2 separate regions of the Homo sapiens genome follow, and region 1 is linked to region 2. Evidence: fine-mapped expression QTL. A gene starts in region 2. The other region holds a variant in brackets. All regions are shown on one strand. Distances are from middle to middle. Region 1 overlaps STK38L (serine/threonine kinase 38 like). Region 2 holds the start of STK38L (serine/threonine kinase 38 like).

Region 1 (4,397 bases), 46 kb after region 2:
AGTTTAAACCTGTTGGCCCCAAATTCTCTAGATCACTGTAATATCTGTCTTTCCCCCAACCATGCTCTCATGCTCTCCAAAAGTTTCCCTAGGCCACTTAATTCATCTTTATAAATTCTATAAATTTCTGTATATATTTTATAATTAAATATGAATAACATAAAGATATATCATTTTATATATATATTTATAAATTTGTTTTTTCCCAGTTGTTTTCATTTTGTTTTACCTCTGAATATTTCCTCCTTTACAAATAATGTTGACATACTCACTCTGGTCTCCCCTCACCTTCGTTACCCATCATCTCCCTCCCCCCTGCCATTTACTCCCCCTTCTTGCAAATTGTGGCTTTTTTTCTCTTTTATATCAATCAAGACAAATATTTTTCTGTATGTGCTCGTGTGTGTGCCAGTAATAGAAACTGATTTAAAATTCTTTTAGGGATGCCCATACTATCTAAAAGTTGGCATTGATTTTTTTTTCCCATCGAGGTGCTAGATTATAAGTATTTGAAGTTATGTGGCATTTCTGCTGAGGTAATTTTTTAAAGTTAACTATGACTTGATTCAGCTGAACATTTTTTTGCAGACAAAATCTAGTGCACTACCAGATAGGCATATAGCAATAGAACAATTAAATTTTATAAATATTTTAAGAATAGACTGCTTCTTTCTGAATGTTTTTGAGAAAGACAGGGTGATAGTTTATCTAAACATTAAGATCGGTAAATAGAATTTTAAATAAAATTGCTGCTTTGGTAAATTTACCTCTTAATTGTTTGCATTTGGTTTATAAACACTTTCCCCTTCTCATTGCAAGTTTTAAAAAAAAATGAAGTTCAGAGGGATTTTTAGTAATTATTTGGACCAATAAACTCAGGTATTCTGCCATGAACATCATTACTACAGCCAAATAAGCTTTCAGGTACTCAACCATTGAACTATATTTTTGTGCATAGGAAAACTATTTCGAAAACAGTTTTGAAAATGAAAATGCTAATGTTGAGTTCAGCACCACTGTGCCATCATCACCAACCTTATGATTCACAGAAGGAGCAAAGACAAGGGTGTCTGTTTATGAAATGCATTCCTCTGGTCTAGTGATCAGGGCATACGCCACATGGAGAGGGCCACGCTAAATAAAAACAAAAGCTATTAACAGCAGATACAGTAAAGAGATTACAAATAAATTGGTGTGTGTTGCCTCATGAGAATCACTCTTTTGTGAGAGAAAGGGTTAGCTCTTCCCTGGAACACCTCTACCTCTAGTTCTACCCCAAATCACTACTAACTTCTAGTAAGGCTTCTACCAAGAGTTCTTTTTTTACTTTAAATATTTCTTTTTGCTACATTTCTCTCCCCTCTCCATTAGAAGTAATCTAATTTGTCAAAGAAGTAGGCTAAGATCAGAAGAGAGAGGGAATGTCTATTAGAGATTAAATTTACAAACTAACTGACAATGGCAGCAGCCCAAGGCAGGAGGGATGAGCAGGAAGATTGAGCAGGGAAGGGAAGAAAATTAATAATTTTTGAGCATTAATATGTGCTAGGAGATACTTTAAAAATATTTTTTACTGATTTATTGATTTATCAAACACATGACGTATCTCAGTCCTTTTACAAGTACTAACTTTTAGAATTATCTTAAGTCTTATATTATCATAATAAGCATGCACACAAGGTGGCTATTATTATATTTATTTAACAGGAAACTGACACACAGAAAGTTTAAAGTTTAATTTGCCTAAAGTGACACAGCTAGTGAATGGCTGCACCAAAATTCAGACCCAGGCAATCTGGCCTTTCATCCTGTGCTCTGCCACCATCAAAGCGTCATATCAACCTTATAAGGTTGGCATTTATGATCTCCATTTTAGAAATGTGGATCCTGACTCAGGTTAAATAACTCAGACAGGATCAGCCTTAAACTAACTTTCTTAAACTAGCCTTAAACTAGCTTTTCTTATACTTTCTGTCCTTACTGATCATTTACCCAGTCATCCACATCTGAAACTTAGAGATAATTAGAGACTTTAGTCTTTCCAGCTGACTAACTGAGGCTTCTTCACTTCTGCTACTATCTTAATTAGTCCCTCACTATTCTGTAATCTCAAATGTGCTGTAAAGGAAGCAGGTGGGTAATAAAATGTGGGTAATAAAAAGTGAATGAGTCTGGGCACGTGGGAATGGAGAGTTGGTGGACGGGTGGGATGTTGTATTGTAAGGGGCCGGCTGCAGCTCTGCTCCAGCTGTCATTGTGGAGCTGACAGAGCTCATTGTGGACAGATCAGACTTTTCAGGAGAAACCAGAAACCTGGATTTTCATGTGAAACCTTCTACTTTCTAAATTGTAGCACAAGCCTAACAAAATGATTCTGCAGGCTACCAGGTTGTAATCTCTGACTATTCATTATTAAGCCTCCTGAGCAGATTTACTTCCTCTAGTCTGATCTGTACTTCCAGCCTTTTGGCCATCCTCCCTGTAC[C/T]AGCATAATCTATCCGAAGTGCAAATCAGATAGGATTTGAGGGCTGGTTAGGAGAATTAAATGCTTCTAAGAATGTAATATTCTTAGAAGAATTCTGGGTACTTGGGTAAAAACTCAATAAATATTCTTTAATGGCTGTTAGGTTTTCACTAAATTAAAAGCCTTGAGTGATTCCCATTTATGTTCAGGATAATTTTTAACATGACAAAAAAGTTCCTTATTTCTACCTTCATCTTCTGCCATTTAATCAAATATACTCAGTCTATCGGTATGCTTAAGTGTGTCAGTGTATTTCATGCCTTACAGCTCTTCCTCCTCTGAGTCCATCTGACTGGTGAACTCTTACTATAGCCCCATCCCCTCCAAGATTCAGTTCAGGCATCACCTTCTGTATTAAACCTTTGATTATCCTTCCTCTTGAAGCACTGATTTCTCCCTACTTTGTGTCTCCATAAGATCATGAACTCCCTAAGGGCCGGAACTGTGTTTTATCAGTCTTATTCTCAGCACTTCATACAGTCAACATGGTATATATCTGCAATAAATGTTGGTTGAAAATAAAACAATTAGTGAAAGTTAATGCTGGGATTTGAAACTTCACCTATGAATTTCTTGCATTTTAGACTGTGCCTCAGAGAGGAAAGAAGCTGTAGCTGCCCTTTCGTTAGGGACCCAGTTTATACAGTGTACAATCTGAGGACTTATTGTAGCCTAGGGCATTATGATTGCAACTAGTGAATTGAATTTAGGCGAATTTTTATACTACAAGGCAATATAGTAGCATTAAGGACACTCCTTCCTCTGAAATGCAGTATGTGAAAACTAAGGTGAAATCACCAGTTAAATAATTTGTTTTACAGCCAGGTAAAGCAGTTCTATTTTCTTCCTTTAGAAATTTGATGGTAAATGGTTGGAGATACCACATCTATTTATAAATGGCCTGAGTGCCAGATTTGTTATCTCCTTTCCCCAGGCTTGATAAAAAAGAATGTTGGACTTAACTATTGGTAGTGTCTCCATTAATGAATAGAGCAGTCTGGAGAAAACACACGTGAACAGGAAATTCAAGGGCACCTTGTGTTGTTTTTATCAGTCCAGGAATTCTAGACTTGCAAATTGTATCCTGTTCTTTTTCTGGCCAAAGAAAGGGCTTTAATAAAACAAAAAGAACAGTGTTAAATCCATTAAAGGAATACATTTGCAATACAATAAGTGCCAGTCATCTAGACCATTCTTTGTAATAATTTGATCACTTCTTAGTTTTGTATAATTTAAATTTTTAAAAGTCTGTCTGTGTCTGGTAAGAAGGAAACAAATTTTTCTTGTTTTTAAAGCTAATCTTGTTTTTAAAGCTAATCTTGTTTTTAAAGCTAATCTTTAAAGCTAAACTATACAAGATATTGTATAATCATGAGTAAGGGTGGGATTTTTGTTTTTTCTGCAAATGTGTTTCTTAAGTAAGATTTATTTCTGAAGGCTAATAGAATACCAAATGATTCTGTATTTCTTAACCCAAATGAAATTATTATATATGAAACACACATATAATTTAAAATCTATTACATTAGAGTTGAGTTACCATCACTTACAGACTGCCTACTGTGTGCTCATCACTTTGCCAGGTACTGCGATGCTTTCATTACAAAGATAAATAGATGGAGATTTTGCCCTTATTTGGTTTTTAAACAAGACATACATGTATGTGTAACTACAATGGAAAGAACATCATAATCATTACTAAATTATATAGAGTCTAAAAGTAATATTTCATTACTTGACATCCACTTCCGATTTTGGAGTAAAACTCATTACAACTTCCTATGATGGAAGAAACCTCATCTTCTATTTACCTTCTTTTTTGAAGACCTCAGGTTCATAAATATTTATCTAAAATGACCTCATATGTATTTCT
Region 2 (4,397 bases):
AAGGCTGCAGTCTAGGTGTCAGGTGGGGCTGCAGTCATCTCAAGGCTCAACTGGGAAAGAATCTACTTCCAAGCTTACTTACATGATTATTGGCAGTATTCAGTTCATCACAGGTTGTTGGACTGGGGGCCTGAATTCCTTGGTGGCTGTTGACTGGATCTCTCTCAGTTCCTTGCCATGTGGGCTTCTCTGTAAGGCAGGTCACAAGACAGCAGCTGGCTTCCATGAAAGCGAGCAAGTGAGAGAGCAAGGACAAGCAAGATGGAGCCCAGAATATTTTTGTAACCTAATCACGGAAATGATATCCTAATCACTTTTGCTATATTTCCTTTTTAAGAACTAAGTTACTAGAGAAGGGAATTACAGAAGGCAGGAATACTAGAAGGCGTGGATCATTGGCAGCCATCTTAGATGCTACTACTACTTACCACATAATTATATTACAAACTCACTTTTTAGTATTTTGGTAACTGTATGTTAACATTATCAATTTCCTTTGTAACCCTAGGTAGTTTATGCATTTAAGAACACTGTTTTGAAAAGGGGTCCATAGACCACCAAAATTCTGGTTCATAGCTCTAATTTGTTTCAGTTGAGGTACTTTCAACAACTTCCCAGGGAAATTTGTTTACAATGGTCTCAATTTAGGAGAATTTAGGAACTAGAGGTCAAAGTCTTAGGCTATCCCATATTAACCTAGACTGCTACTCTATACTAGTTCATATTACTCTAGTATGGCACATTTGAAGACATAAATTTGCTGTGGAACAAACCATACACTGTTCTCAATCTTATCGTAGCATTTGAATGGTATGTGTATGCGTGCAGTACAGGGAGAAGGGTGTATAGGCCTGTCAAGCTTGTCTGATCACAATTAAACCTCCTATGCTTGTATATGACAACTGTCATTTGAGTTTCAAAATGACCATATAAGTGGAGCTGATCTCCCCAAAAATACACTAATTACCAAACTAGAGCTTTTCCCACTACTAAGCTATGTATGAAAAAGCACAGTGTAAGAAAGAGAAATGAGGTAATGCTTCTTTCCTAGGTGTTTTGCTCGTGTCACCTGCTCTTGGGAAACCTAAAGATGACAGGTGGCATTTCTAAGTGATAGTTTTTGCAAGCACAGTACCAGCTTCATACGTTGTCTCAGTAAGCTAAAAGCTAAGAATATTTTATAAGACCTCCAATACTCATATTGAGGATAAACTTGCCAACAATAATTGGGAGTCATTCTCTCATTTGGCTTTCCCAAAGGCCAGTTTTGTCCCCAGACGCAAATTGCATCAACCTTCCCAAAGTTGTCCCTTTTGGGTCATCCTATAGGGGAGTGCTCTTCTGCACAATTCTCAGATCCTACTGATAAAGCAGGCCAGTACTGTAGTTATTTTAGATTTTCCAAGAAAACTCAAACAGGTTTTTAATGTATTTTTTGTGGCATTTACAAATCCTGGTTCCTCTCCAGTCTCTGGAGTCCCCTCATGGTGAAATGGAAGCGTCAAGGAACCTGGGTGGCTTCGAGTCCCCACAGCTACCGACTGAGCAACTTAGCTGATCCATCTTTGTTGACAACTGTTTCCCAATCTGAAAAATGCGTGAATTCTCTCTTTCCATTTCTAACATTCTTTGCATTGCACTGTTTGAAAAATTCGGATGACATTTAGAATGTGACTAATGTCGCAACACATTAGGCCACTCTCAAGAGAGGCCTGAACAGGTTTGGCGTAAAAACGGCAGTGAGGTGAGGCTGGTGAGAGGGGAAGTGGCGACAGTTCAGTCAACTCCCTCAAAACCAGTCTGGCCTTCACCAGGCGGAGATGGGTGGGGCCGGGAAGACGGGCGTTGACGACAGAAGGCTACTTCCGGCTGTGGTGCGTATGACGTCAGGGCGAGTCGGACCGACCCAGCCACCGAGAAGCCGAGGAGGCAAGGCTCGCGAGAGTTCAGGGAGGCCGCCCTGAGATTCCGGCGAGGCCGCGGGTCCCACCTCCCGGGGGCGGGGCGAGGGCGGAGCGGGGAGAAGGGAGCTGACGGGCGCCCGGCCGGCTGCGGTCCGTGCGGAGGCTGAGCCGGCCGCGGGCGCGACCGGAGGCAGGTGAGTTCGCGGATGTAGCGCTCGGCTGAGGGCCCGAGCTCGCCGCGCCAGCCCCAACTCTGCGAGCAGGAGCAGGAGGAGATTTTAGGTGTCTTTGGGTGTCCAGGGAAAGCCGGGCTAATTCTGGGGCTGGAAATGTCTCCGGGGAACCTGCGGCGACGGCCTTGGCCCTCTTATTCCCCGGGGTGATACTGGCCCCATGTGTCCAGAGAGGGAGCCTCGCACCCGGGGAGGAATCTTTGTCCTCTGCTCCTTTCTCCTTCCACTCCCCGGCCCCCGAGCACTCCGCTCCGGGTCCCCGCCTGGGCTTCACAAACAATAACAAATGTCGCGGATCCTCTCCGGGTAGCCCCAGCGCTCCCGTCCCGTGCCCTCCAGCCGATGTCACCCAGAGCCAGGATCCGAAGCATGGCTCTTCAATTGTGGGGGCTGTTTGTGTACCGTTCCTAAAAACTGATGCGTCAGATTGCCAAACATTTCTCAAGACAGACTCAGGAAAGCCTCCCAGCTCCTAGAAGCCACGGAGTGCTCAAAACCAGTCTTAGAATCTGTCTTTACCATTGCACCCGTAGCCCCTTCCTTTCAAAATCATTTCTCCCACTCCTTTTTTCACCTTTAGTATCGAGGTCGAACGAGTGGTTATTTGGTGTGGGAGTAGAAAAGAGTATAACCGATTGAGTAGGGCACGTTTCACCTTTAAAAAGTTGCCAGGTTGACAGCAAAAGAACAAACTTTATTTTCAAAACCAGTGGCCTCCCCTTTTACTGGTGCTGCTTTTGTTTTGTGGAATAGCTTTTCGGGTTCTAAGTTTGGAGGAATGATATAAAAAGAAGTGGGAGGTGGGGGGAGGGCTAGTGGCTCTGGAAGTAGTGGCTTGTCCAAAAGTAGGATGCTATTGTTTCTCACTTGATAAAATGCAGAACCAACACTTTTACCCATTTCACATAACTTGTGATAAGTTTTGAGAGAAGCCACTTAATCGGAAATGGCCTATTAGCTTATTTTACTGCTCAAATCTGAAAAAACAGCTTTAAGTGATTTAAGTTCTGCCTCTTGATTGTAAGATGGGGATTGATGAGTGAGACCTTGTCTTTTTTGGCGCTGGGGCTTACGTTTGACCGGTCTCTCTACTTTAAGGCAGGGCCTATTGTACTTAAGCCCATTTTTGCTTCCTCAGTACAGATTCTTGAAAGTTCTTTGTCTCAATCATATATGTATATAAGGTACTGTAAACCTCTTTGAATTTGATTGGCCTTTCTCTCTGTGCCTCAGGATATGTAAAACAATTAAGTTTATTATACTCTCTCCCCAGTGGCTGAGAGGTATTGTATGTGAATTAGCCACCCTTGTGACTATTTGAGGAGAGAGAAGTTAGTCTAAAATATTATGTTAAATTATGATATTACATAATTTTATTGCATAAGTTCATCAAACTACTTCCATCTGAAAAATCCTGATCTCAAAATAGGTAGGTACAATGAATTAAAAAATGTTTTGGTTTGACCTCACTTAGCTTTGTTTTCTCCTTGTTAAGATGGCTGATAATGTTTCCCATTTGGTTGTGATGTGTTTAGAATGAGAAGCAAAGTTGGGTGTAGTTTTTGTACTCTTTTGAAAGGCCTTGCCACTAGGAATGAAAAAATTAGACTTAGAAAACACACATTAAATAGAAGCAGTTTTTCTCTAGCCATTTGCTCTTGAGTTTGTTTTAAAATAAGTCAAAGAATGGAGACTGAGATGATTTGTGCCAACAAATAGATGTCCTTGTTAGTTTTTATGCTGAAAACTTGATTTCTAAAGGTAGGACACTGTAAGAACAAAGGAGAAATTGGACTTCCTAAAAAATGATAACAAAGCAATGGACTCAGTTCAGCTGTTTGCTTTCAGAAAAGTTCTGTTCTCTTAAAGTAAGGAGAGCATCATTGTGTTAGTGAAATTGGATAACGCACCTTAGAAAGTGCCTCCCCAGTGATCCAGGATAAGTTGGAGGCTCTTTTGTGTGTGTGTGGCACTTTTTGTTAAGAGGGAGAAAGGGCACAAATCAGAGCCAGAAAGATTTGCATCTCGATGTATTGTTAAAATGCTTTTATTTTATGTAAATAGTGTCAGGTGAATCAAGCAAGCATATTGTTGTCTAGCATCCTTAGGATTACATTAAAATCAGCAGATTGGCAAGTTATGATTAGGTTAGACTTGACATATGCAGAAATTATGCTTCTGTATTTTTATATTAAAAGCACCATGGTCTTTTTGAATGAAATAATGAAAGCAAGCTTTTAAGACATAACTTTTTTAAAAA

What was found. PIP is the estimated chance that this variant, and not a neighbour inherited with it, causes the effect. A credible set is the group of variants that fine-mapping cannot tell apart.
Region 1: its variant is the best candidate, but not a certain one, in a credible set for the expression of STK38L in pancreas (GTEx, PIP 0.66).

What each region holds. Positions count from the first base shown.
Region 1 is chr12:27,288,534-27,292,930 of GRCh38, forward strand. The region is part of intron 1 of STK38L (serine/threonine kinase 38 like); the gene reads left to right. It overlaps LOC124902905 (a long non-coding RNA gene), which reads right to left. Exons shown (of 3, transcript XR_007063254.1): 1 at 2,871-4,397; 2 at 1,036-1,134. Among named protein-coding and RNA genes, the nearest start is that of BMAL2, 42 kb to the right of the region's middle. The variant C/T (reference allele first, on the strand shown) is at 2,486.
Region 2 is chr12:27,242,235-27,246,631 of GRCh38, forward strand. STK38L (serine/threonine kinase 38 like) reads left to right here and starts at 2,052. Exons shown (of 14, transcript NM_015000.4): 1 at 2,052-2,098. RefSeq lists enhancers at 763-822, 3,411-3,460 and a silencer at 1,881-2,120.